Homo sapiens: one gene and its partners. The protein of the gene in region 6 purifies or fractionates together with the protein of the main gene of each other region. This does not show direct contact. Each region holds a gene or a part of one and is shown on either strand. Other genes may lie near its edges. The genes, in order: PLS1, HS1BP3, ACY3, NRGN, DENR, RWDD2B and DCPH1.

What was found.
Region 1: the proteins of RWDD2B (region 6) and PLS1 purify together in Homo sapiens (affinity purification with mass spectrometry; 3 studies listed by BioGRID and IntAct, with this or other methods). This does not show direct contact.
Region 2: the proteins of RWDD2B (region 6) and HS1BP3 purify together in Homo sapiens (affinity purification with mass spectrometry; 2 studies listed by BioGRID and IntAct, with this or other methods). This does not show direct contact.
Region 3: the proteins of RWDD2B (region 6) and ACY3 purify together in Homo sapiens (affinity purification with mass spectrometry; one large-scale study listed by BioGRID and IntAct). This does not show direct contact.
Region 4: the proteins of RWDD2B (region 6) and NRGN purify together in Homo sapiens (affinity purification with mass spectrometry; 2 studies listed by BioGRID and IntAct, with this or other methods). This does not show direct contact.
Region 5: the proteins of RWDD2B (region 6) and DENR purify together in Homo sapiens (affinity purification with mass spectrometry; 2 studies listed by BioGRID and IntAct, with this or other methods). This does not show direct contact.
Region 7: the proteins of RWDD2B (region 6) and DCPH1 purify together in Homo sapiens (affinity purification with mass spectrometry; 3 studies listed by BioGRID and IntAct, with this or other methods). This does not show direct contact.

Annotation. Positions count from the first base shown.
Region 1 is NC_000003.12:142,602,555-142,606,477, reverse strand, and holds part of PLS1 (plastin-1), read right to left. Parts: intron 1-3,923. UniProt on the Homo sapiens protein: Actin-bundling protein. In the inner ear, it is required for stereocilia formation. Mediates liquid packing of actin filaments that is necessary for stereocilia to grow to their proper dimensions.
Region 2 is NC_000002.12:20,644,402-20,648,324, forward strand, and holds part of HS1BP3 (HCLS1-binding protein 3), read right to left. Parts: intron 1,105-3,923; coding exon 939-1,104; intron 1-938. UniProt on the Homo sapiens protein: May be a modulator of IL-2 signaling.
Region 3 is NC_000011.10:67,641,994-67,645,254, forward strand, and holds the end of ACY3 (N-acyl-aromatic-L-amino acid amidohydrolase (carboxylate-forming)), read right to left. Parts: intron 3,160-3,261; coding exon 3,052-3,159; intron 2,877-3,051; coding exon 2,767-2,876; intron 947-2,766; coding exon 731-946; 3' UTR 562-730; downstream 1-561. UniProt on the Homo sapiens protein: Plays an important role in deacetylating mercapturic acids in kidney proximal tubules. Also acts on N-acetyl-aromatic amino acids.
Region 4 is NC_000011.10:124,738,502-124,742,866, reverse strand, and holds the start of NRGN (neurogranin), read right to left. Parts: upstream 2,926-4,365; 5' UTR 2,783-2,925; coding exon 2,768-2,782; intron 1-2,767.
Region 5 is NC_000012.12:122,758,967-122,762,889, reverse strand, and holds part of DENR (density-regulated protein), read right to left. Parts: intron 704-3,923; coding exon 684-703; intron 46-683; coding exon 1-45. UniProt on the Homo sapiens protein: Translation regulator forming a complex with MCTS1 to promote translation reinitiation.
Region 6 is NC_000021.9:29,016,357-29,021,079, forward strand, and holds the start of RWDD2B (RWD domain-containing protein 2B), read right to left. Parts: upstream 2,994-4,723; 5' UTR 2,922-2,993; coding exon 2,855-2,921; exon of another isoform or gene 2,557-2,854; intron 1,892-2,556; exon of another isoform or gene 1,230-1,891; intron 1-1,229.
Region 7 is NC_000006.12:151,455,102-151,459,024, forward strand, and holds part of DCPH1 (damage-control phosphatase ARMT1), read left to right. Parts: intron 1-3,226; coding exon 3,227-3,471; intron 3,472-3,923. UniProt on the Homo sapiens protein: Metal-dependent phosphatase that shows phosphatase activity against several substrates, including fructose-1-phosphate and fructose-6-phosphate.

The DNA of each region.
Region 1 (3,923 bases), on a different chromosome or scaffold from region 6:
AAGAGTAATAAAACTGTTATTTTAAAAACAATGTCATGTGTGCCAAGAATACTGATGAAACATCATTTAATCCTATTCAAAGTGAAGATTTTGACAACGTGTGGTTGATATGAAACCTTTAATTTCTCTGAGAAGTCCCGCTGCTTGCTTTAGTAATACCCTTAATGCCTCAGGACATAACATACTCAAAAAAAAACTGTGCATAAAGAAGTTCTAAATGAATCTTGGTATCCTTTCTAGATTAAATGAGCAACATGCACATCACAAGGTCTTCCTTAAGTGTGCCTGAGATGTGAAATAGCATGCAGACTATTCCCACTGATATTTAATAATACATTAACATGCAAAAATGGGTATCATTGTGTACCCTTTTGTACAATGTTTCAGGATTCAGTTATTTCCTCTGAATTACTAGAAAATTACAATGTTTTGGGTTCTCCCATTATTTATTGTCCTAGTGGTATGAGAAATGCTTATAGTAACCTTGCAGAAATACTTCAATTAAGGCTTAGTCTCCCACAGAACAATATATATCACATAGGGAGAATATAACTTTGTAAAATATTTAGAAAGTTTAATCTTTTATCCTACACATTCCAGATGTACATTAGCAGGAAGTATAAGTTTTAAAACAAAACTACTTTGTTCAAGATGAAAGAGATGGATATTTTCCCATGTTAATCAACTCTTATTTCAAGAACTCATTTTAATGTTAATATGCTCCATAGTTGAGGGTTAGCCATAAAATACATTTAGACTTTTATAAAAATTGCACATAAATTTCATAGAGGAATTATTTCATATGGTCAGTAACAGAAGAAAATATGAATTGACTGCAAGAGCACTAGATTTGGAGCTAGACTGAAGTCCCATGAGGTCAGGAGTTCGAGATCAGCCTGGACAACATGGAGAAACCATGTCTCTACTAGAAATACAAAAATTAGCTGGGCATGGTGGCACATGCCTGTAACCCCAGCTACTGGGGAGGATGAAGCAGGAGAATCACTTGAACCCGGGAGGCGAAAGGTTGCAGTGAGCCAAGATTGTGCCCCTCACTCCAGCCTGAGCAACGGAGCAAGACTCTGTCTCAAAAAAATTAACCCTGACATTTTTTCAAATGTTGAAATTATAAGACACAGTTATGAGTTTAATTTCTGGCAGTTTCAAATCAGGCAACCTCCAGCAGGCAAGTCATTCTCTAAGTCTTGGCCACTTATCAGTGAAAGGAAGTAAAATCAGAAAGCTTTTTTAAACATCAATAAATGCCTTTCCTCTATCTTGTAGTTGACTAGTTACTTTCACATCCACTATCTTGTTTAATTATCAAACCTACAGCTGAAGAGAAGGCCTTCCTTCTCATGGGGTCAGAAACAGAATCACAGACTTTGACTTCTCATCCATGGTTCTGATCATAGGCCAACTGGTTTCAGGTATCTAAACTTTAAATTGCCCTAAGACTCATTTTAATTGACCACTAAACATTCAGAGATTTTCAGATTTCCTTTTTCCACTGATAATAATCTTGAATTTTTTTTTTTTTTTGAGACGGAGTCTTGCTCTGCTGCCCAGGCTGGAGATGCAGTGCCGTGATCTCAGCTCACTGCAAGCTCTGCCTCCCGGGTTCACGCCATTCTCCTGCCTCAGTCTCCTGAGTAGCTGGGACTACAGGCACCCACCACCACGCCTGGCTAATTATTTGTATTTTTTAGTAGAGACGGGGTTTCACCATGTTAGCCAGGATGGTCTCAATATCCTGACCTCGTGATCCGCCTGCCTCGGCCTCCCAAAGTGCTGGGATTACAGGCGTGAGCCACTGCACCTGGCCAATAATCTTGAATTTAATTTGGCTATTTGAGGATAAGAAAGGGATCAAGCAAATTGCTATTATTGTTGTTTTTCCAAAATCAACTCACTTCCATGACAACTTCTGATGAAAAACATTGGGTTTTGGTGAGCTGTGTTTCACAGATGGCACCTCACTGACCTGATTAACACTTAAAATTCCAATAACTAGGTCACTCTTAGAAACATTTCCTTGACCAAAAGGATGTCCCAATGATCTTAAACCTGGGGAGAGGGGAAGGAAAAGGGAGACCGCCAGGAAAGAATTCAGAGTGCTCTCCAGGAAGAGACAGCAGGAGTCTTTGAGAGGTTTTGGTTTATTTACAAAGATTATAAATACTAACTTGATATCAACCTAGAGATTCTACTTGTCTAAACCTTTCCCCCTCTTTTATTCATTCCAAGCAGCCCTTGGTCCAAGGTGTAATTAACAAGACCGATCCTTCCACACACATTTACCAGTGTCTTAAATTCAAATCCAAATTCTATTTTGGCAGTACTGCTAAAATCTCTTATTTCTTAGTTCTCAAAAAAATTGAAGGAGCTTTTGTCATTTTTTTAATATAAACATCTTCTTTCTTGAAACTGGATCTATAAACAATTTAATGTATTGTGTTCCTCAATAATAGAGTAAATCTGATTTCTGCTAATATTTTGGGTCAGTGACACCCCAAAACCTTTTGCTTTTTATCATGAAGAAGCCCCTCAGACACCTTCTACCTTACTAATGTCTCCATCCAATTTACTATCAAGAAAAGACAGTTTCTCCTTTTTTTTTGTGGTCAGCTTGGATCTTTTGAAGGAGGCATGTCTGTGTGCAGTGAGTTATCACCCAGATGTTCTTGTAGGTATTTTTTTTTTTTTTTGAGGCAGGGTTTCACTTTGTCACCCAGGCTAAAGTGCAGTGGCACAATCTCAGGTCACTGCAGCCTCAATCTCCTGGGCTCAAAATGATCCTCCCACCTCAGCCTAAGTAACTGGGACTACAGGCACGCGCCACCATGCCCAGATAATTTTTTTGTAGAGACGATGTTTTGCCATGTTGCCCAGGCTGGTGTTGAACTCTTGAGCTCAAGCGATCCACCTGCCTCAGCCTCCCAAAGTGCTGGGATTATAGGCGTGAGCCACCATGCCCAGCCAGTCTCGTAGTTTTATAGCTGTGAATTGCTCACAAAAGTCAATCATAAAATTTAGTTTATCGTAAAGTCTGAAGTCCCTTCACCACTGGACTTTATGAACAAAGCTATGTCTAACTCTGCTAGGAAATATTTTCTGATGAAACAAGTGTTTTAAGTAAGAAAAAACTCTCCCAATCATCTAACTCCTCACCCTTTCTGTGCCCACAATATTACTATAATAAAAAGCAACGTGCCTTTACAGAAGCCATGCTACATATGTCTCACCAAAAACGGCACATAGGCACTTTCAGACACAGTGCTAAAAAGAAATCAGATGATCAAAGTTGAACAGCCTCACATCTCATGTGACCTTACATGTCAGCAAAGTTTCCAGCAATCAAAATTGTATAACCATTTTATAACCAATAAACCCGTATGCAGCACAAATGTCTCTTTCTCCCCGACGTTCATCATCAGCCAGAGTAAAATGTTAATTCGGAACTGGATGAAGTGACAAGCTTTTGAATGTTGAGAGAATGAGGGCCAGAGGTGGCCTCAGCCTCAACACTTTGGGAGGCTGAGGCGGGCGAGTCACTTGAGGTCAGGAGTTGGCGACCAGCCTGGCCAACATGGTGAAACCCCGACTCTACTAAAAATACAAAAATTAGCCCGGTGAAGCCAGAAGCTGCGGCCCTGCCTTTCATATCCTGGGAACACAGAACCACTCAGGGGAAGGTAAAGCAGAACCAGGAAATGGAAAGAGAGCTCAGGCAGCAAGGGAGGGAAGCACGCTCTCAGCTGAGTTCCATTTTGAGACTCCCAGGAGAGTAAGTTCTCTATGTAATTAGGTTCATCAAGAGGAGGGAGAGGAGCACATTTTCTCACAGGTCAAAGCTGGGGCCTATGGGGTGGGGGGGGCCTTTAAATTATTTGTCTTTGACCTGGGGCCTTTCCTGAGGTATC
Region 2 (3,923 bases), on a different chromosome or scaffold from region 6:
GATTTTTAATATCACCTCCAAGTTGATGACTCCCAAGCCTACATCTCAGGCCTGAGCTCGTCCCGAGCTCCAGCCTCATGTATCCATCCACAGGGCAGACACTTCACACTCCACATGCCCCCTAGGTCTGCTCCTCCATCATATTCTTTATTTCAGTTGGTGGAAACAGTCAGCAAATGTGGTGCATGTTACCCAGTAAACATTTTCAACTCTCCCTTTCCCTTCCATACCAAGTGCAACTGGCCTGCTCCAAGCCCTTGATTTGGGAATGACCATATTGGCCATGTATCTGGGCTCCCTGACACCTGTTTTGTTCCTTCCAATCCAACTCCATGCTCTCAGCAGATTGGCTGGTTAAAGGCAAAAGGGTCCACGTCACTCCCCTGCTTAAAACTCTCCTTGGCTGCAGGTTAAGTCCAGGCTCCCGCAGACTCTCCACAATCTGGATCCTGCCTGTCACTCACCTTCATCTTCCCCGCTTCCTCCCAGGACCACACTCAACTGTGCAGAGTTCCCACTCAATGTCCTATTTCCAACCTCCGTGCCTTTGCTTAGGATGTGTTGTCTGCCCGGGACACCCTTCTCACCTCTCCTGCTGAGCCCCATCTGTTCCTCAAAACACAGCTCAGCCACCGCCTCTTCCAAGAAGTTTCCCCAGGGTCAGTTAGGTGCCCCTTCTCTATACCCCCAGAGCCCCCCAGGTGCTCCTGTCCCCATCTGTATCTGTCTCTTTAGAGGTCTGCCTCTCCACGGACTGAGAGCGTCTGATTCACCCTGTGTCCCTTCTGTCTAGCATGGTCTGGTACTCCAGGCCCTGAGCAAGCAACAGACAGAGAAGCACTTGCTCTGGATGCTACTTGAACCCTGGTGGGCAGATGTGTCTGCCCGCCCGGACCCCGGGCACCCTCGAAACATCCTGGCCAGAGCCTCCGGCTCACCAAGAACTGGACGACATCCTCGGGCCTGTGCTTGGCCGACTTGAACGCAGCCAGACGGGTCACCACCAGGATCTGGTACTCCACGTGTCCAGACATCATCTTGCCCCGTACCTCCTGGTGCTGGGGCACAGTCAGGTCGAGGCCAGTGTGGGCATTCTGAAGTCGCCTGCCAGGGGAAAAGAAGGCAGGTGGGGTTCAGGGTCAAGGCAGTAGGCTTCCCGAGCAAAGTGCAGGCAGGGCCTCTGGGTGCCTGGCAGGCCTGGGTGCCAGGTGACTCTGCTGGCTGTCCTCAGTGGTCACTGCTCCAGGCCACCCATCCCGCCACACCAGCCCTCATAAGCCTGGCTTCCCAGGCCTCGAGGCCTCGGACCTGGTCCTGCCTTTGGGTTGCTCAGGGACAAAGGTCTGCTCCCTGCAGGAAAACAGGAAAGGATGGGGCTTGTTGAAAGGGATCGACACAAACTCTGTGCAGAATGGGTGGGAGCAGCATCCTAGGGCCTCTACTCAGACCAAGGAACATGCCTGGGGCTGCAGGGACAGCAAGGGATTGAAATCCCAGCTGGAGACAGGCACCTCTCTTTGGCTAATGGGCAGGAGGGCTGCTACAGGCCCCCTGGGGGGGACACGGGACGAGCACTGGAGGCAGGACCCTTGTGACCCACCGTGGCCCAGAGAGGCACTGATAGGCCCGTCCCTCATCTGGGCAGTCGATGCTGCCCCTCGAGGTGTAGAGAGGATGCATCGGCAAAACATCACCGCTCTTGGAGATTTGTAAAATGCAATTCGAATATAATGAATTGTATGATGAGCAAAGAAGTGATGAGATGTTTTTCTTGAAGTGGAAAAAGTTATTAAATACATCCCTCATCCTACATAAGGTGAGACACAGACCTGTGCAGACTAACATCCCTCACGCAAACACCTCTGGCAGGACACGTGGGGCACCCTCTGAGCAGCTCTGACCATCGAGGTGAGACCTCCTGTGTGCTGGGCAGGACCCTGAAAACACGGGAGGAGCTTCTGGAGCTTAACCTGTGTCTGGGGCAAGGCCCTTCCCTCTCTGGAATTATACCCCAATCCATCAAATCCCCCTGCCCCAGCACTCCTCCCACACGGACCCCTCACATCCCACGCTAGGCCACGCTGTCACCAGCACAACGCTGCTGTCACCAACTGGTGAGGCCTACAGTGATGCGTCTCCTATGCCATGTATGACACCCAATGACTGAGTGCTGTACACACAAGGAATATCCTCCCGCGGCGTAGGGCACCCCAGGCAACCTGCCTTCAGGTGGTGAAAAGTGCAGCAAGGGCCGAATGGGCACTGGGAGGTGCACACGCACAGCCAGCCCTCTGCCAACGGCACCGAGTTCACGCAGTGTGCACGCGCGGCCTGGTGTCACCCACGGTGTCACTGCCACCAGTGTGGAGGAGGAAGGTGAGGCTGGATGCTGAGGGGAGACGCGCTGGGCTCTAGGGATGCACCTGTGTGAAGTCACTTCCGCCTCCTGCAACCCTGCGAAGGAGCTCTGCTACCCAGACCCACTTAAAATACAGGGAAACAGACCCCTAAAGGGAAAGTGCCTGCCCAGGTCTCACCCGGCATGAGGTGGAGCTGCGTTCAATCCCAGGCAGCTGCTCCAGAGCCCAGGTGGCCTCTTATGGGGCAGGCATGAGAAAGAAGCCAGGCATCATTTCTTTAGGATCATGATGAAAACGAGGCACAGGGGGGTGAAAGTGACAAGAAGGGCAGTGCCTGAGCTGCGGGGAGGTCCTCTCAGGGGTGGGAAAGGGATGGAGCAGACCCAGATGGGCACCTCCCACGATCCAGCTCCCTCACAGCACCCCACATCCAATGGTTCTCTGACCACGCCAGAACCCACAATCCATAACCCCACCCCTTTTCCAGGGTCCCATTCCATTGCTGGAATCCCTCTGCCTTAGGCCCAGCTCCCCTGACTTCTTACCCAGAGCTGAGCTGGCCTGGTCAAAGCCCACTTCTCCAGTTCTCTGCTTCCTTCACCCTGTGCCCAAGTGGCTCAACGTGACTGGGGACAGACATGGTGTAAACATGCAGCCTGGTCCCATTGAAATTCATGGCTGCAGACTTGAAGGCACAGCACCACACCAGGCTTGGCAACCCTACCTTGCCCTAGATGTGGGGTTCTCAAAGTGTGGTCCCTGGATCAGGATCAGCATCGCCTGGGAACTTGTAAGAAAGGCATGTTCGGGCCTAGGGTGGCCAGCCATCTTGTTTTCTTAGTAAGCCCTCCGACGAGTCTGATGCACCTGGGCCTACTCCATCACCCTCCCACTTCCCTGAACCCATAGGAAAACTTTCTCTACAGGGTCAGATAGCAAATATTTCAGGCTGTGTAGGGTATCTGGTCTCTGCTGCAGCTGCTACGGAGAGTACATAAACAAATGGGGGTGTGGTGGGCAGGATGTGCCCTAGACCAAGCTTCTCCAACTGTAATGTGCGTGCAACCCCCTGGGGATCCTGTTAATATGCAGATTCTGGTTCTGCAGGCCCCGGGGTGTGCCCTCACCATCTCTAGCAAATTCCCAAGTGATGTGGACACTGCTGTGTACTGCTCCAGAGACCATCGGAGAACATCCTAGGCTTCGCTGTCACATCTGCCCATCAGCCTGCAGCTGCTCCCTGATAGCTGCCCTCTCCTGGGACTGTAGACAAACTGGCTGGCTGCTCCTAAGGCCAACCTTCTACCAGGGCAGCGGCTCCGAGGCCCTCCCACCTACTGAAGGACATAGCTGCTGCAGCTCACCCCTCTTTTTCGCACCATCGATTTTCCTTCCTTACTGGCCCACGCTTATTAGCATGCAACCATGCTCTGACCACTCATGTAACAAAAGCTGTGCTTTGACCCGACATTCCCCTTGCTCCGTTTCCCTCCTGCCCTTTCCAGCAGAACTCCTCAACAGAGGGCCCCATATTCATGGGTTCCTCTCCTCCTGTTTGATCTT
Region 3 (3,261 bases), on a different chromosome or scaffold from region 6:
GCTGTGGCCCTTCCCCCAGCCCTGACTCCCTGCTTGAGCCACTATGGGCACCGGGCTCATTACACACTTAAAAATGCACATCTGGCCACATAGAGATCCCCTTAGAACGCCCAAGGAACTGAGGCTCTTGGAAACACGTGTGTGTGGGAAACGCACAGACACGCACGCCAAAGAGCATCCAGGGCAGGCGCCATGCACGGACAAACACACATGTGTGCACAGACATGGGCCTGTCTCTGCGCTCCCCACACTCACTGTCTGGCCCCAGGACTATAGGAGGGTTGGGGGGTCCCCCTCTGGGTTGTAGCCTCCTCTGGAAGCCCCTCCGCTGGATCCAGAGCAATCCTTCTTCAGGTTCTCCTCCCACACTCTGGAATCCTCCCCCAGGCATGGATGGACAGCTGTGGGCACAGAGGCAGCCACCACTGGCCCCAAGACACTTGCAGGTCCAAGGCTGCACTGGCCAGACCTCCCCCAGATCCTGTGGTCAACCTCCCTTCCTCCATCCACTTCCCCAGCCAGAGAGGAGCCGTGCAGGACAGAGGACACAAACCATGGACCTCTGGACATCTTCCATTTTATAGAAAGGGAAATTGAGGCCAGGGGTTGGGGAGGCCTGGCAAGGAACATGGTGCATGGTAGGTGGCAGAAGGGACCTCTGTGCTCAGAGCTGTGCCTCAGGACCCATCGTTCAGATGGGAAGACTGAGGTTGGGGAGGTGTGTCTTGGGTTAGGAAGCTGGGCTCGGGGCAGGGGTCAGCGCGGGCATGGCAGGCACGGTGAATGTGAACTTCTCAGTCTGGACAAAGGCAACGCCCTTCTCATAGTAGGCAGCCTCGTTAATGAACACGGGGTACACCGTGGACTCTCCCTCATAGAGCAGGTCCTCCCCACTGAACATCTGGAAGATGGGAGCACCAGGCTGCAGTGGCTGGAAGTCTCGGTCCTGGGAGGAGAGCCAAAGGCCAAGATTGCTGGGGCCACCTCTGCCCTGGCCCCAGAGGGGGGTGACCCCAGCTTGACACCCAAAAGATGCCCCTCATTCATGGCTTTTCCCACCCATGCTTCACTTCCTTAATCCATATGACAGCAGGTCTGGTGAGATACCAGTCTGCTCTGTGTCTAGAAATGAAGACACAGGTCACCTTGGGGTGGCATGTGCCCATGTGGAAGTGGACCCTCATGGATACGGGCACAGGTATTGAAGCTGGAGTTCAAATTCTTGCTAGCTGTGTAACTGTGAGCAAGTCACTTAACCTCTGTTTCTCAGCTTTCTTGTCTGTAAAATAAGGATTACAATATCTCCTCCTATCATTCTGAAGTTTAGACTAAACAGGTTAATAGTGCTTACAGCAGTGTCTGGCACACGGTAAGTACAATATGATTCTTTATTAAATAAATTTTGGCTGGGCGCAGTGGCTCACGCCTGTAATCCCAGCACTTTGGGAGGCCAAGGCGGGTGGATCATGAGGTCAGGAGTTCAAGACCAGCCTGGCCAACATGGTGAAATTTCATCTCTACTAAAAATACAAAAATTAGCCAGGTGTGGTGGTGAGCGCCTGTAATCCCAGCTATTCGGGAGGCTGAGGCAGGAGAATCGCTTGAACTCAGGAGGCGGAGGTTGCAGTAAGCCAATATTATGCCACTGCACTCCAGCCTGGGCAACAGAGCGAGACTCTGTCTCAAATAAATAAATAAATAAATTTTAAGCCTGGGCACAGTGGCTCATAATCTCAGTGGCCTGTAATCTCAGCACTTTGGGAGGCTGAGGTGGGCAGATCACTTGAGGTCAGGAGTTCGAGACCAGCCTGGCCAACGTGGTGAAACCCTGTCTGTACTAAAAAGACAAAAATTGGCTGGGTGTGGTGGTGAGTGCCTATAATCCCAGCTACTGGGGAGGCTGAGTCAGGAGAATCGCTTGAACCCAGGAGGCAGATGTCACAGTGAGTTGAGATCGCACCACTGCACTCTAGCCTGGGCAATGAAGCAAGATTCTGTCTCAAAAAATAATAATAAAAAATAAAATAAATTTTAAAATTGTAGGAGGAGCCACCCAAATTGACTGTTATGACTGAACGTCTGCAAGGTAGCTGGGCACGGCTGGATTAAGACTGTCTAGCCCTAAACATGGACGGGATGGTGCTGCCTCCATTTGTAAGAAGGTAACTCCTCAAAATGAAACTTCAGGGCACAAAAGGCCACAAGATTGCACCAGACCCTATTCAACAATGACCCCCTGTGGCAGCAAGCAGAGCAGCAGCCAGTACGTTCTTCTCAGGCACCCAAGGGAAAGGTGTGGAAGCAGGATTGCCTAATCCTGGAACATTCAGGAAGGGAAGGCCTGCAGAGAGACATACTGCCAACATGCATGGGGATGCTCGAGGAACCAATTGAAAATCAGAAGAGAGTTTTGTATTTGCACCTCCAAGCAGGTGAATTGAGTCATGCCTGCTCCATGTCCCCTCCCTCTGCCTTTTACAGCCAGGGTAGGGTTGTCTCCATCATGCCCTCCACAGGAGCTATGGGGATCACTGTGGCCTCTTGTGCTAGGCCTGAGTGTGGGGTTCCAGGGAAGGCAGCAGGGCCAGGGGAAGTGGGATGGCGGAGCCCAGCCTCCCATCCTGCTCCTCAACCCGAGATGCTGGTGAGCTCGTGGGAGGCTTGGCTGCACCCCCTGGGGCTCAGTTTTCCTTGACAATCCTCCTCCCCAAGGCTGTGGCCCCAGAAATCACCCCCCACCACACACACACACACACACACACACACCTGCAGCTGAGGATGCACAGTGCCTGCCAGGTGCCCGGCCTCGGTGCGGGGGAAGTCCACGACGCCCACGGGTCTATAGGCTTCCATCTCAAAGGCAGGAAAGGCCGTACCTGTGTGGGAGGCTGGGTGTGTGAGCCCATCCCTCCCTCCAGGCTAGGGGACAGACTGGGCCGTGGGGGTACGTCAGGGCTAGATCCCAGCCTGCCTGTGAGCCTGGCTCCCCAACCCCTGAGCCAGACCTGCTCTTCCCCGGACCTGTTTCCCGAAAGTCCCCTGGGGTCTCACCCTGGTTGAAGAGTTCGATGAAGTCCAGAACTGTGGCCACCAGGGTCCTCATCCTTGAGAAAATGTCAGCCCGCAGCACACCCTGTGGCTGGGGGCCCAGCTCCAGACCTGGGGACCAGGAAGCAAGGGGTTAGGCAGGTGCAGGACCCATATACTCCTTGAAGAGGCCCTGCCCCTTGGTGACTGGACCCGCCCCTCCAGCCCTCCTGG
Region 4 (4,365 bases), on a different chromosome or scaffold from region 6:
AACTAATGAACAAAGTCTCCTTCAGCTCCCAAATCCGAATAGCTTTAAGGATATCCCCTGCTTGCTGCTTGTTATTATGTCAGGCCCTGTGCTAAGCGCTTTGCATATATTACCTCATTTAATCCCCATTTTGGAAGTCAGGAAACAGCCTCTGAGACATTTTGTAACTTAGCTAAGGTCACTCAGTTGACAAATAGTGAAGTGATGGGATTCAGTAGCCTCTGCTGCTAGCCACTGCCTCAGGGCAGGTAATTATTTCTATGAATTCAGCAGGGCCAAGCCAACTAGACTAAGCAAAAGAAATGAGGATCCAAAAAAATTCATGCGCTTTTTCATGCGCGGTGAATGCAGGAAAAGTCATATATATATATGGCTATGTAAATCAGCAACTGCAATATTTGAATCAGCATGAATAAAAAACCATTCCTCTGTCTCTTAAAAAAATAGGCAGATCTGTTTTCTTCTTCCTCATTTCTATCTGAGCCTCTGTACCAAGGAGAAACGGGAATAAGACAGGACTAGATTCTTCCCAAACACCAGGTGATGCGGTCAGTGAGGAGAGCTCCAGAATCAAAAGATGAAGAAGGACCTGCCTCTAGCCCCCAAGAGGTATGCTGTTCTTCCCACACATCTCAGCTCTCTCCCAGCACTGAGTCCAGCCCTCCACAGAAAGGGGAGGAAAATGCCCACCCCTAGCCCTGCCCTTCCCCAACCCTCCACACATCACTCCTTCTTCTTCCTGCCCTCCTGCACAGTCTGATAATGGTGCTCTCTCTTGCTCAGCCCTTTAGCCCTGCAGACCTAGGACAGGGCATGACTTGGGAAGGCTCCTGTGCACAGGGTGCACTGGAGGAGGTGCCCCAGGCCCTGGGCCATGGAGATAATTGTGTATCTGCTTCTCTTTTACCTTTTGGGTGGGTAGCCTCTCCTTTTTTAAGGGACACTGACTTCAACCATGTCTACTAATCCCTCAGTATGGCTCCCTGGGCACTCAAGAGCAACAGTTCCAGGCAGGGACCCCCACATCCTACTCTAATTACTACTGCAGACACAGAGGAGACCAATTCCATTCCTTCCCTGGCCTCTTGGATTCTTTGTTTACTCACCTCTTTCCAGTGACCACGTCTCCCACTTCCCCTTCCCCAGCAATACTCCCCTGTCATCCTCACCTCTCCCCTCCCCCCAGCTCATTTCCCAGAACCCACCATCCATTTATCTTCTCTACTTTATACAACACTGCTGGGAGGAAGGGCTCTTCCTCAGTGGAGCCCAGGAACCTCCATGAGGAGCCCATTTCTCCCTTCACAACCAAAAAATTGCTTCCTGTAGAATAACAAGCAGAGGGAAAAGGCTGGAAGGAGATATGTTATCGGGGTGTTCTCCAGGGGGTGGGACTGTAGGTGACTGACATGTTTGTTTTTCATACTTTTCTCTAGGTTTTACGTTTTCTATTATGAGCAGATTACTTTTATAATCAGTAAATATTTAGAGGAGAGGTTAAACCACAGCTCTTCGAAGAAGACAGGGCTATGTTTGAATCCTGCCTCCACAGTTAGGAGTCATGCTTCCTTGGAAAAATCTAACTTTCTAAACCTCAGTTGGCACATCTGTGAAATAATACCTACTTCACAGGGTTGTTGCTATGATTAAATATAAAGTGCTGGCTACAGGGCAGGCATTCACAAACTGGCAACTATTACTTAAACTAATAAGAGTTAAAATCGCAACCACCACCACTTGCCCCTAAGTGTTCTCTGCCTCTTGGTACCCAGACATGGGAAAGTCTCACCTATTATAGAACTGGGCTATCCTTCCCTTCCAAAGCCCACTTTTTTTTTCTTTACTATGCCATAAGGTGGCAAAGTCAGTAACCTCGTGTATCATTAGCTGGTTGACTGAATGACTGAAAATACAAGGACTTTGGAATAGTCTTTCTCCAAGTGCAGAGGCAAAAAATAAATAAGCAAACAAATAAATTTCATATACGTATGATCACTGTACTCTTCCAGTGAGGCAGGAGCCAGGGCCTATGCCAGGCGCTTTCATACCGAGTCACCTTTACAGCAAACCCCTCGGGCGCTGGGCACTTGCAGTACCCAGGTTTCCGCGTGGGCGCTGACAAATTGCAGACACTTCCTTTCCTCGCCAGCAGGGCTCTCTCGCGGTCACTTCACCCAGCCCCTTCCGAGCGAGAAGGCCTTGGGGGCCGGGACAACCCCTCCCCAGAACCACCCTGACTAGGCTCTTTGCAGCCAGCATCACTACCGAGCTAACCAATATGGACCAGCCTGCGCTGCACAGGGCGCTTAGGCGATCGTTGGAGGGTCATGAGGATCAGCCTGTCCGCCCACCGACGGCGGCGCAGTGGGATGGGGAACGGGGTGGGGGCCGAAAGACGGGAGGAAGGAGTCGCTGCAGTGTCTCCAGGCGATGGTTGCCAGCGTCTCACTGGGGAGGAAGTTCCTCCTGTCATCCAACCCGCAGTTCCCCTCTTGCAGAGCCCTGCCGAGCTCCCAGTCCAGCCTAGGCTGTCTAACGGATGGGCGCTCAGACGCCCCCGCGAGTTGAGGAGCATTTTTCCTAGGGCTTCCAAGTCGGGCGGGCGCCTTCCACCATCCACCACCCACGTCTCGGCAAGGACCCCTTTTCTTTCTGCTCCTAGGTCTTCCGCATCCACTTCCATCCCTCTCTCGCCCTCCAGGGCTTTCTCAGGCGCCTCTCGCAGCGGACCCCGCCAAGTGCCCCTCCCCCGGGCCCTCTAACTTACGGTGCAGCAGTCCATGCTGGTGTCGGGGGGTCCTCTGCGGGGACGAAGGCTGGCGCAGGGCGGGGGTGGGGTCTGTGTGGTGCCGGGTGGGGGCTCTGGGGCAGTCGGCCGCCAGCCGACCCGCGCCGAAACAGCAGCTCTGCTCTCGGGTCCGGTCTCCCGCGCTCGGCTCCGCTCGCGAATGTAACCTGAGCCCCGCGGCCGGGAAGCCAATCAGGAGCAGCCTCCGGCAGGGTGGGCGGGGAGAAGTGGAGGGAGGGCCACGCCCTCTCGCGGCTCTCTGCGCCGCGCTCCCGCTCCTGCCCCAGCCCCTCCGCCTACACGCTTGTATCCAAGCCTCCTACACACTCCATCCTCCCGGGCGCAATCCCCTGGCTTGCTAGGCGGCAGACTGCCAGGCAGATGTACGCCGGAGTAGGCAGAAGGAGGCCCCCGACACCCCGAGCACAAACACCCACATCTGGGCACAGCACCTACTCCCGCTCAGAGAAAACCACGCACCCCTCACCCATCCCTCCATACTTCCACAACCTAGCAGGAGTCCCAAATATGGCTCCCTTTCACTTCACTCCCCCTCAGTCCGCAAAGAAAGGCTCCCTAACGGGCGGTAAAAAGGTCTCATCATCACTCCTGCTACAGACGGAGAAACCTGTTGGTACAACCTGGCGATGGGCATGCGTCCACACAAAAGCTCACAAGCCCCACATGTCCACATATGATTTTCCCAGGCCTTCTTCCAGCATACAGACACTGCAGATACAACCTGCAAAAATAACTACGCAGCCCTTCAGTTGCAGGTAAATGCGGACACCCTGTTGCGGGCGCCCGCGCGCTCACGCACGCACACGGACAGTCACCCAACTCAAGCTGTCGGCATGACGTATCTATTATCGATCTGTCTACATGAGCTGCAACAAACAACATCATATATGCACAACACCTATTTTGTATGTATTTATATATGGGCACAGACTTGGAAGAAGTATCCTCCTCCCTTTCATACCAGACTCTGCCTAACCTTTTGATCTGCTGCCTCAGAATAAGACAAAAGCTGGCCATCCTCGCCCTTGCTCCTGAGAAGAAGAAAAATACCCTAAACCCAAGTGTAGAGAATTCGAAGTAATTGGCTCTTGGGTCCATGATGAGGCAGGATGTGGGCTTCGTGAGAGGCTGGGAAGGGGAGCTATGGAAAGAGCATCTGGGAGGGACAGACTGCCACTGTTGTGGTCGTCAGCCTCCCCCAACTCGGCAGGGTACAAAAGCTGGCAGTGTGGCTTGTTATGTGGGTAGGGTAGGCCTTCTCTGAGAAAACTAGAAAGTCTTCTCAGCTAAGGTCCCAGAGAAGGGAAGGAGGAAAGGATGGCTCCTGCTGGGAGCAAAGGTGGGAAATGCCCTGTGGCTCTGGTTGGGACAGCAGATCCTGAGACAGCTCTGCTGTGCATCCCCAGTCCCTGGCCATGACCAGGGACCACGTGGCGGTGACATGCTTCCTTTCCACCTAGATGTTTGGGCCCGAGGCTCTGCTTGCCAAAGGAAAAATGAGTGGGAGAGAAATGCCTGAGTCCATTCAGGGTGGGGATAAGGTTAGCCAGCTTGGG
Region 5 (3,923 bases), on a different chromosome or scaffold from region 6:
TAACCATTGTCTACATTTAGCAACATCAGGCATATATTCACAGTACTAGGAGAAAAAAAAAGAACTGAGTCACAACAAAACATTTTCAGTCAAACAATATGTCGTAATTAAAAATCACCCCCTATACTTGTTAATACAAAGAATAAAACAAACCACTCCCATCTGACTTCTTATCCACAGGAAATCTGTATTCAACCACGATATGTCCCATAAAAAATTAGATATTAAGAAGGATTAGGTACCTCTTCACAGTACCAATTTATTTCTTCTCCCTCTATTTCTTGCTTTGAGCACATAAGTGCCTCATTTTCATGACTTGCTCATAGAGCTGGACTTAGAAAGTCTTACACATAATTTATACTGCCCTTTCTTTCCTCTGCTCATTTGTATAGATTTTGGCATTAAGGTTACTCTTATTTTATTAGCTGACTATTCATAAGTCCCATGCAAAAATCCAAACTGCACAGCCATGTGCAAAAGATGCACATGTATGATTTAAGGTCTAAATTTAGGAAAGAATATATAAGACCAAAAAATTACTCTAAATCAAAGTTCTCTATAAAAGGTTAAAGCTTTACTATCAAATAATCAAAAATGAAAAATAAAAAAAAATTCTCAAGGTAGCTTTAAAACCAAGAATAACTTCAAATACATAAGGTAAAAAAAAAAATTAAAGAACTTACCTCTGTTGGTAATGAACAGACTGAGGAAGTAAAAAGAAAAAAGATTTGAAATGTTAAACCTATATGTACACACATACACAGGGCTTATCCTTACTTTTATATTTGAGAAAATGCTTCATTTTTACATTTTCCCTATAAGTTTTCTATACCACTTTTCAAATGCTACTCTTCAGTGTTTTTGGGGTAAAAGGCACATGGTTATTTGAGATGATACTATCTTGACTTTTTCATCTAAAGAGTGTCTCCATCAGCTGATGGAACATCAAAATATGCTATTTTGTATATAATGAGGTCTTACCATAACCATTTCAGTGGGTCAAAAAATTAAGCTAAGACACGAACAATTTCCCATACATCAGAGTTTGAAGGAAACTGGTTATTTCTTTTCTTTTGAGACACGGTCTCACTCTGTTGCCCAGGCTGGGGTGCAGTGGTGCAATCATGGCTCAATGCAGCCTCCACCCCTCCAGGGGCTCAAATGATCCTCCCACCTCAGTCTCCCAACTAAATGGGACTACAGATGCACACCACCATGCCCAGCTAATTTTTTGTAGAGACAAGGTTTCACCATGTTGCCCAGGCTAGTCTCAAACTTCTGGGCTTAAGCGATCTACCTATCTTAGCTTCCCAAAGTGCTGGGATCACAGGCGTGAAGCACTGTTCCCAGCCTGGTTATTTCTTTTGATGGTTCTACCAAAACAGCCACCACTTTTTATTCATACTGACACATTTATAAACTTTAGCAGCATTTTTACTACCATCTTTTTGCAATATATTTTTCCTTTTTTTTTTTCTGAGACAGAGTCTTGCTCTTTCTGCCAGGCTGGAGTGCAGAGGCACGATCTCGGCTCACTGCAACTTCTGTCTCCTGGGCTCAAGAAATTCTCCTGCCTCAGCCTCCCAAGTAGCTGGGATTACAGGCGTGTGCCACCACGCCCGGCTAATTTTTGTATTTTTAGTAGAGACGGGGTTTCACCATGTTGGCCAGACTGGTCTCAAACTCCTGACCTCAGGTAATCCGTCCGCCTCAGCCTCCCAAAGTGCTGGGATTACAGGCATGAGCCACCGCACCTGGCCTATTTTTTTTAGAGTAAGGGTCTCACTCTCACTCTGTCACTCAGGCTGGAGTGTAGTGGTGTGTCCATGGCTCACTGCAGCCTCGAACTCCTCAGCTCAAGTAATCCTCCCGCTTCAGCCTCCCAAGTAGCTGGGACTATAAGCGTGAGCCACTATGTACAGGTAAGTTTTTTATTTTTGTAGAGACGGGATCTCGCTATGTTGCCAAGGCTTTTTCATGTTATGCTACATAAGATCATGAAAGTGTAAAGCTAGAAGGAATCTTGGTTCAATCCTGTCATTTGGTGTTAGAGCCTGTACAGGCTAATAATGGACTAGAAGAACTGGAAAAGCTTCCAATTTTAACCGTAATTCTAATACTGGGTCAACTGCTTATTTTGTTTTTATTTATTTATTTTTGAGACGGAGTCTTGCTCTTTCACCCAGGCCGGACTGCAGTAGCACTATCTCGGCTCACTGCAAGCTCCGCCTCCCGGGTTCACGCCATTCTCCTGCCTCAGTCTCCAGAGTAGCTGGGACTACAGGTGCCCGCCACCGCGCCCGGCTAATTTTTTGTATTTTTAGTAAAGACGGGGTTTCACAGTATTAGCTAGGATGGTCTCGATCTCCTGACCTTGTGATCCGCCCGCCTCAGCCTCCCAAAGTGCTGGGATTACAGGAGTGAGCCACCGCGCCCGGCCTTTTGTTTTTATGTTTAAGGTTTAGAATGGAGTAGTTCAGTGTGTCCAATATCCTGAGATTTCTCAGGGAGAGGAAGGTGGTATACCATGTAGTCACAGCAATTACTACACACTGGGCACCTAGTATGTGCCAAATGTTTTGCTATGCCTTATATACATTATTATGTTTAGTTATCACAACCTTGTAAGATAAGTACCATATCTATATTCAGATGATGAAACTGAGGCTTAGAGTACATAACCACTTGCATCTGGATAACAGGATTTGAATCTGCCTGTTTCTGACGCTCATGCTATTAACCACTAACTTAGGTTACACAAAGTAAACAAGCAACTTAGTGGCACCTGACAGCTGAAAATGATCTGCCTTCACCTCACCCTACTAACATTCTAACATGCTACCACACAATCACTATTTTACAGATGGGGCACTAAAAGAGTTAAACAGCTCATACAATGACAAAGGTGGTATGTGGCAGAAGAAAACTGGAATCCATTGGTTTTGTCCAGTCTAGTCTATTATAGTTTAGGGTTATTTCCACCAAAGATCTCTCTGGTTAGCTACAGCCCTATATTCCTCACAATTCAAGTTCAAATACTAGGCATAGTTGTTCAGCCACACTTTCAGGATATAACTATACAATTATTGGTTAAACACCATCACAGCAAATACTAAAGCTACAAATTTTGTATACTATTTCAAATAATATTTAGTTCAGAAAAAAAAAAAAATTGGGGTTTTGCTCTGTTGCCCAGGCTGGAGTGCAATGGCACCATCTCAGCTGGCTGCAACCTCTACCTCCTGGGTCCAAGTGATTCTCGTAGCTCAGCCTCCCGAGTAGCTGGGATTACAGGTGTGCACCACCACACCCAGCTAATTTTTGTATTTTTAGTAGAGACAGGGTTTTGCCATGTTGGCCAGGCTGGTCTTGAACTCCTGGCCTCAAGTGATCTGCCTGCCTTGGCCTCAGCCTCCCAAAGTGCTGTGATTACAGGTGTGAGCCACTGTGCCTGGCCCGGTTCAGCAAAATTCTAATGCAATAAAAAAATTGGGGGAGCTCCTTTAAGTTCACCATTATTTGCTTTAAAAAAGTCAATTTCTCTTTACAGATCACTTACTTATTTGGAAAGGGAAAACTGTACCTTTTCAATGCAAACATTTAGCCGTCACCTTCAAACTTAGCATCACTAATAGTGAAACATCTGACATTATGAGCTCTTGATGCAATGCAACATGATGAATGAAACATCATCCACGAAACTTTCTTGCCAAAATCTGTTTAACTTGAATCTAATTAAGCCTCTAGGCCGGGTGTGGTGGCTCACGTCTACAATCCCAGCACTTTGGGAGGCCGAGGTGGTGGATCACCTGAGGTCAGGAGTTCAAGACCAGCCTGGCCAACATGGTGAAACCCCATCTCTACTAAAAATACAAAAATTAGCCGGGTGTGGTGGCGCACACCTGTAGTCCCAGCTACTCAGA
Region 6 (4,723 bases):
CAGGTTCAAGCGATTCTCCTGCCTCAGCCTCCCAAGTAGCTAGGATTACAGGCATGCGCCACCACACCCAGCTAATTTTTTGTATTTAGTAGAGATGGAGTTACACCATGTCAGTTGGGCTAGTCTCAAACTCCCGACCTCAGGTGATTCACCCGCCTTGGCCTCCCAGAGTGCTGGGATTACAGGCATGAGCCACTGCTCCCGGCCTTTTTTTTTTTAAACAAAATCCTCATACATACTTAAAATCCCTGGACTTATTGGAATTCCATATACATATTTGCTGGTCTGTTTTGGAGTTGAGAAACATAAAAAACAACTACTTGGGTGGTTATTAGAGGAAATGGTTTACTTTGTTTTTTTGTTGGCGTGGCTCTGTTACCAGTGTTTTTGGATTCTATTACCAGATTGCCAAGGTGCGACTCCTGGCTCTGCCACTTACCAACTGCAGGACCTTAGGCAAGTGGCTTAATTTATCTGTGCTTTAGTCTCCCCAACTCCATAACTGGGATGAGAGGGTTGCTGTGATGATTAGATGAGAATTTGTGGAAAGTGCCTGGCAACAGTAAATTTTATATGCGTGCTTGCTACTATTATTATTAATTAAAAAAACCTTTTTTTTTGAGACAGGGTCTAGCTCTGTCACCCAGGCCAGAGTGCAGAGTCGGCTCACTACAACCTCTGCTTTCTGGGTTTTTTAGTAGAGACGGGGTTTCACCACGTTGGCCAGGCTGGTCTCGAACTCCTGCCGTCATGATCCACCCGCCCTGGGCTCCCAAAGTGCTGGGATTACAGGCATGAGCCACCGTGTCCGGCTGCTTATTACTATTATTATTATTGGTCATCATTTCAACAAATGTTTCTCAAGCACTTACGTTCAAGCACTGGCACTAAGATAACAATGAATGAAAGTAATAAAACAACTCTACTGGTGGGAGGATACCATGACATCAAAAACAAATTTATACGCCCAGCCCAGGTGCGGTGGTGGCTCACGCCTGTAATCCCAGCACTTTGGGAGGATGAGGTGGGCGGATCACCTAAGGTCAGGAGTTTGAGACCAGCCTGGCCAACATGATGAAACCCCATCTCTACTAAAAATACAAAAATTAGCCAGGTGTGGTCGCCCACGCCTGTAGTCCCAGCTACTAGGGAGGCTGAGGCAGGAGAATCGCTTGAACTGGGGAGGCGGAGGTTGCAGTGAGCTAAGATCATACCTCTGCACTCCAGCCAGAGCAACAGAGCAAGACTGTCTCAAAAAAAAACAAAAAAGAATTTTTGTACCCAGTGAATAACTGCTATGAAGAAACCTGAAAAAGAAAACAAGGATAAGGGAAACAATGAGGCAGCAGGGGTGAGACTGCACACAGCATTGTCAGGAAAGGCCTTTCTCCTAAGGTGACTGTAGGGAAGAGACTTTAAGGAACTGAAAAAGGAGGCCATGTGTTTTTCTTGGCCAAGAGTGTTCAAGGGAAAGCGAACAGCATATTCAAAGGCCTTGAGGAAGGAGGGTGCTAGAACAGCTGGCCAGAGCACAGTGAGCTGAGGACACGGGGAATAGAAGAGTTTAGTAAGGAAATGTGGGGCAGTTTATGTTGGGACTAGTAAAGCATGGCCAGAATTTTGAATTTTATCCCGACTGACATGTAAGAGCTACAAGAGAGGTTTGACTTATGAAGATCCCCACACTTGCTGCTATGGAGAAAAGTGAAAGGAAAAGTGGGGTGACCAGATATAGACACCGCAATAACTAGGGAGAGATGATGGTGGCTTTGATAGGATTATAGTGGTCAAGTTGGTGAGCTTCAGGTTCTGGATACATGCAGAGAACAGAGGCAACAGGATTTACAGATGAATTACATGAGACACGGAAGAATGACTCCGGGGCTTTAAGGTACTGAAAGTATGGATCTGCCATTTATTTAGACGTTGATGGTCATGGGGAGCTGAAGCTTGGTTTTAGACACAAGTAATGAAGTGCCTACTAAGACACCTGTTAAATAGAGAGGTCTAGCAGGCAGTTAGATGTATAGTTTTGAAGTCTACGAGAGACTCAGCTAGATATATAATCTTGGGAGTCAACACTTATTTGGAACTATATATTTGTTTAAAGTCTCCCAGGGAGTGAGTAAAGTTGGGAGAGGGTGCTATTGAATTGGAGGTATCGAAGATGAAATGGGATTAGCAAAGAAGAACGGGACGGAGGGACTCTTGAACGGACAACTACGGGAGTGATGTCACAGGTCATTTATCTGCCAAATTATTTTCGCTTAAGAGATTTCAGTCCTTCCAAAAAACCCTCAAGATAATTTTATGATTCAAGATTTCAGCGAATGCTGTAAGATAATAGACTGTGGCCGGGCGCGATTGCTCACGCCTGTAATCCCAGCACTTTGGGAGGCAGAGGAAGGGGGACTGCTTGAGCCCAGGAGTTCAAGATCAGCCTGGGTAACATAGTAAGAGCTCGCCTTTATTATTTTTTTAAAAAATAAAATATATTTAAGAGAACGCAGACTGAAACTTGAGATTTCTGAGTGGAATAATATCTTTTCCTTGCAGATTTTTTTTTGAAGAACAGAGCAGGGTACCCCGCGACCCAAGCCAAGACGCTCTCAGGAAGAAAGCCCAGCACGCAGCCGCCCTCGCACCCTGATTGCCCCCGGGGCGAGGTCCCCGGCTGGAGCAGGGCTGCAGAAGCCGGGAAGCAACGCCGAGGACCGAGCCGACCGATGGGCGCATGCAGTGAGGGGAACCGGGGCCGCCATGCCGGGCACGTTCCCAAAGGGTTGCACTGGGCGCTGCAGCGTGGGAAACCCCCGTGGCGGTCACCACTGGCGCTAGCTGAGGCGAGACTCACCTTGAGCCGTGGCCCCCTCACTGCTGTAACCCGGGTTCCATGGCTGCATGGACAGCTCAATTTTCATCAGAAGGGAGCCTCAAAATTCTAGCATACTGCGACCCAAAACTTACAAACCGCCTCAGCTGGCGACCTACCGGAAAAAAAAAAAAAAAGCATGCGGCGCATGCGCGTCCAAGGCCGCGGACCGGAAGCTGGGGCTCGCCTGTTGGGAGCCGCGTCCGCCGGTGTTGGTGTCTGCACTTGGAAGGACGTAGGGAATGCGTTGTCCCTGCTAGGTACTTTTCAGTCGCAGAGTTCTCTTCTTCTTCTTTCTTTCTTCCTTTTTTTTTTTTTTGAGACGGAGTCTCGCTGTGTCTCTCAAGCTGGAGTGCAGTGGCGCGATCTCGGCTCACTGCAGCCTCCGCCTCCTGGGTTCAAGCGATTCTCCTGCCTCAGCCTCCCGAGTAGCTGGGATTACAGGCGCCCACCACCATGCCCAGATAATTTTTGTATTTTTCAGTAGAAATGGGGTTTCACCATGTTGGCCAGGCTGGTCTCGAACTCCTGACCTCAGGTGATCCACCGGCCTCGGCCTCCCACAGTGCTGGGATTACAGGCCTGAGCCACCGTGCCCGGCCGGAGTTTTTCTACTTAATACCTCTCCATGCCAACCCCGTTGTCATTTCCCAGCGGCCGCCTCTATAACGGGCACTTTTCAGGGACAAAGAATTGGTCCGTTAATGTTCCTCAAATTCGAACGCGCCTAGGAATAGTTCGGGGATCCTGTTGAAGTGCAGATCAGGATTCCGTAGGTAGGGGTGGGGTTCCAAATTCTACATTTCTAGTATCTTCCCACACGATGGTGATCCTCCTTGTCCCTGAATCATGGAGGAGGGCAATTAGGGAGATGTGAGCCTGGATGCATGGTGGCCTTGGCTATCTTAGGTGTTCTTGCCCATTAACCAAGCTGGGAGGAACCGTGTGAATGCATATCTATCCCTGTTAATAAAAGGGTAGTTTGAAGGAGATGCTGACAGGAGAATAATTAGAAATGTTTTTCTTCCCAATCCAACTATATGCAATACACTTTATAATATTCATTTTAGAAATGTCATAGATAAGATTTGTAAACATTGACATTTAGCAATACTAAATATCACTGCTAGGTCTCCCCTCCACTTTTTTTTTTTAAACAAAAATACGACAGTATGTATTGTAGGTCTTCATAAACTACGTCTTCTGCATAGTGTTTCATGAGCGTTTTTCAATGTCATAATTTATTTTTTCCTCCAACATTTATTATGAAAAAATTCAAGTGTAAAGCGAAGTCGAGAGAATTTTACAGTGGAGCAGACCTCAAGAGAAGGGGAAGGATGGATTTCCCCTCTATTTAGCAGTGTCTGAAGACATTTTGGGTTGTCACAACTGGAAGGATGGTATTGGCATGGGGTAGGTAGAGCACAGGGATGTTCCTCAACTTCCTACAATGAACAGGACATCCCCCGACAACAACAAATTTGCTGGTCCAAAATGTTGATAGTGTTGAGGTTGAAAAACACTGACCTGGAGAGTACAGAATTTTACTCTACCAGCTTTGTCACATACCTCATCAATCTATCTGTTTTCATACATTTAAAAGTAAACTGCAGACAGTACGCTTCTAAGTACCTCTAATGCACATCATTGGAGTTCAAATTAAGGATTTTTTAAGGTAAAAATGAAATGCATACCTTAAATACACATCAGTTTTTAAATGCACACGCCTATGGAACTCAAGCCATATTAACATATAGAACGTTACCATCACCCTAGAAAGTTCTTTCATGCCCTTTCTTAGTTCCCAACCAGTTCTCCCCAAAGGTAACCACTGTTCTGATTTTTTCCCCC
Region 7 (3,923 bases), on a different chromosome or scaffold from region 6:
GTACTGATTCAAGTTGGGACTCATTAGCATTCAGTGCAGAATAGGACTTTAGAAATCACTTTGTCCATTCAATTAATGGATGAGGAAAAATCCAAATAACTATGTTATTGAAGGGGTGGGTTGCCCCTCCACACCTGTGGGTGTTTCTCGTAAGGTGGAACGAGAGACTTGGAAAAGAAAAAGACACAGAGACAAAGTATAGAGAAAGAAATAAGGGGACCTGGGGAACCAGCGTTCAGCATATGGAGGATCCCGCCAGCCTCTGAGTTCCCTTAGTATTTATTGATCATTCGTGGGTGTTTCTCCGAGAGAGGGATGTGTCAGGGTCACAAGACAATTGTGGGGAGAGGGTCAGCAGACAAACACGTGAACAAAGGTCTTTGCATCATAGACAATGTAAAGGATTAAGTGCTGTGCTTTTAGATATGCATACACATAAACATCTCAATGCTTTACAAAGCAGTATTGCTGCCCGCATGTCCCACCTCCAGCCCTAAGGCGGTTTTTCCCTATCTCAGTAGATGGAACATACAATTGGGTTTTATACCGAGACATTCCATTGCCCAGGGACGGGCAGGAGACAGATGCCTTCCTCTTGTCTCAACTGCAAGAGGCATGCCTTCCTCTTACACTAATCCTCCTCAGCACAGACCCTTTACGGGTGTCGGGCTGGGGGACGGTCAGGTCTTTCCCTTCCCACGAGGCCATATTTCAGACTATCACATGGGGAGAAACCTTGGACAATACCTGGCTTTCCTAGGCAGAGGTCCCTGCGGCCTTCCGGCCTTCCGCAGTTTTTGTGCCCCTGGGTACTTGAGATTAGGGAGTGGTGATGACTCTCAAGGAGTATGCTGCCTTCAAGCATCTGTTTAACAAAGCACATCTTGCACCGCCCTTAATCCATTTAACTCCGAGTTGACACAGCACATGTTTCAGAGAGCACGGGGTTGGGGGTAAGGTTATAGATTAACAGAATCTCAAGGCAGAAGAATTTTTCTTAGTACAGAACAAAATGGAGTCTCCTATGTCTACTTCTTTCTACACAGACACAGTAACAATCTGATCTCTCTTGCTTTTCCCCACATGTTATGTTAGACATAGGTCTTTAAACTTGTAGGTTCAGTAATCTTTCTATTACACAATAGACTGTAAAAGAGCATACATATACCAGTACATTTTTTTTGAGAGTTGAAAACAAAAATTTAGAGAAATGGTTGGTGATCTTTTCTCCTTGGCCAAATTGAAATGGAGCAAGATAACACACATGCAGTTTGAGTGTAATGTTCTACTTCTTTCAACTTCTTTTATATTGTCTTGTTTAAAACTAATCCTGGCATAACACAGGGATTACCTGTTGTTCCTTGTTGCTAAAATCCGGCTTAATTTAGACACTGACAATTATATTGCTGAATGGTTTTAATGTTTATCACATAAACATAATTTTGGTAACTGACATATCTTTATCACACAAGTATAATTTAGCCAAATTTGGATAGTTCACTTTAGTATTTGGTCATATACGCAAGCAAATTACCATAATACTTTTGTTTTTCTTGTTGTTGTTTTTTGAGACAGGGTCTTGTTCTGTCTACTAGGCAGAGTGCAGTGGTGCAGTCATAGCTCACTGCAGCCTCAAACTCCTAGATTCCAGCAATTCTCCCAGTTCAGCATCCTAAAGTGCTGGCATTACAGGCGTGAGCCACTGTGCCTGGCCCCATAATGCTTTTGTAATTTCAGTTTTTTCGGCCAGAGTGATCTAAAATGTAGTAATTAATGAAGTCCTAGTATATTGCTACTTGGCCTGTATGCCCGTAATCACCAGGTGACTGAAGGCAGAGTTTATTGTCTCTCCAGCCCTCCCCCATTTCACACTCTACTGAGCACAGAACAAGATGTAAATTGACACAGATAAAGTCTGCTTTTGGTAGCCTTTCTGTCCCTTTTTCATGCCTCTGTTATACCTATGGCCACTCTCCTTGGGCCTCATGTGTTCTAGCTTCCTAAGCCCCCACCTATAGCAGGGCCAGGCTTATCTCCGAAGGAGCCATGCCACACAGTTTTCTATCTTCCCCCACCTCAGCGGTCAAACGTCCGTGCCCTTAGACTACCTGGTTTGGCAGATGTGTGTCTCTTGGAGACAGGACCAGGCTTTATTCATCTTTCTCTGGCCCTGAGGTTAGTGTCAGGCACATACAGGGTTCAGTAAATGTTTGAATTCAATTCAAGTAAGTGAACAAAGTGGCAGTGACATCACTATTAATCCATTAGCCTTTTTAGGTATATGCTTCTGTAAAAGGGTGCCTGACACCCTGTAAAACCTCAGTTGTTGGAATTTATAGTTAAAGAGTTGAAGTTTAAGACTTTAGGGAAGAGATTTGGAGGAGGGGGAGTTCCTCTCAAAACAGTCAGCTACAACTTCTTTTCTTCTATTTCTGAACCTGCAGAATCTCGAAAGCTTCAATCTTTTTTTCTAGCAGCAAAATAAATTGTACTTGGAACAAAAGAAAGATTGGAGAGATGTTTATATTGAGAAAATTACAGATCTGAAAGTAGGGACTAAATATCAACATGATAAAAATGATCTTATAAAAATACTCAGGCTTGATGTTTATTCTCTACATTTTATTATATACGTGTCTTATTAGGCTTACATTTTCTTTTTTTTTAATGGAGCAGGAATCTTGCTAATGTAAAACCAAGGTGTGAAGTCATTTTCACTTCATTCTGATCCCATTACATTTGTCCCCACTCCAATTGGCCTGTTATGTGAGATAATATTGTAGTGCCTTGTTTGTCAGCATATGTCATCTCTCACCTAGCTAGAACTTGGTGGAAAACAAGTTAAAAAAAATTTGAGCTACCAAAAGAAACCTCAGAAAGCCCACAGTTTCTTTTCTAGTGGTGTCAATGGTGAAAGAAGAATATGTATGGAAGCATGAAAGACATGGAAAATCTGGCAGGGGTTCCTTTCCCTCTGTGGTAATGGTCATCCCACCGAAGATACAGAAAGGCCAGAACTTAGGTAGATAAGGCATGATTATGTTCATATGAGATCTGTGTGTGTTTTTTGATTTTCAGTTTAAGAGTTCTAAATGTAATGTTTAAAGAAATAAAATGTAGTTTTGAACATTTTTCTTTTCTTCTTAAGTCTGTAAAAATATGTTACCCTAGAGGAATTGCACAGACACACACACACACACAATTTATTTTTCTTGTATTTTTGCAGGAAGGCGTGGAAGCTGAAAAGAAAGCTATCTCTCTCCTTTCTAAATTACGGAATGAATTGCAAACAGATAAACCATTTATCCCCTTGGTTGAGAAATTTGTTGATACTGATATATGGAATCAGTACCTAGAATATCAACAGAGTCTTTTAAATGAAAGTGATGGAAAATCAAGATGGTTCTACTCACCGTGGTTGTTGGTAGAATGTTACATGTATCGAAGAATTCATGAAGCAATTATCCAGAGGTACGTGTGTAATCATCAACTATCAAATGTTTAGATAATTTATACTTTTTCTGAAATTGTAAAAGGATAAGTTTAAAAATAAGCACCAGTGGAAGCTTGAATTTGGTTGAGTTTAGCAAATCTTAATAGCATTGTTGGACATTTCTACAAATGTTACTGATGGACATTTCTACAAATGTTACTGATGGACATTTCTATAGCTGTTACCAATTTAACAGATTCTTGGCAATTATAATCTACTTGCCTAGAATAGACATAAGAGTAAATATCTAAAGTACGAATTGGCCAGGCCCTGAGGTTCATGCTTGTAATCCCAGCACTTTGGGAGGCTGAGGTGGGCAGATTGCTTGAGGTCAGGAGTTCGAGACCAGCCTGGCCAGCATAACGAAACCCGTCTCTACTAAAAATAAAAAAATTAGCGAGGCATGGTGGCACGGGCCTGTAATCCCAGG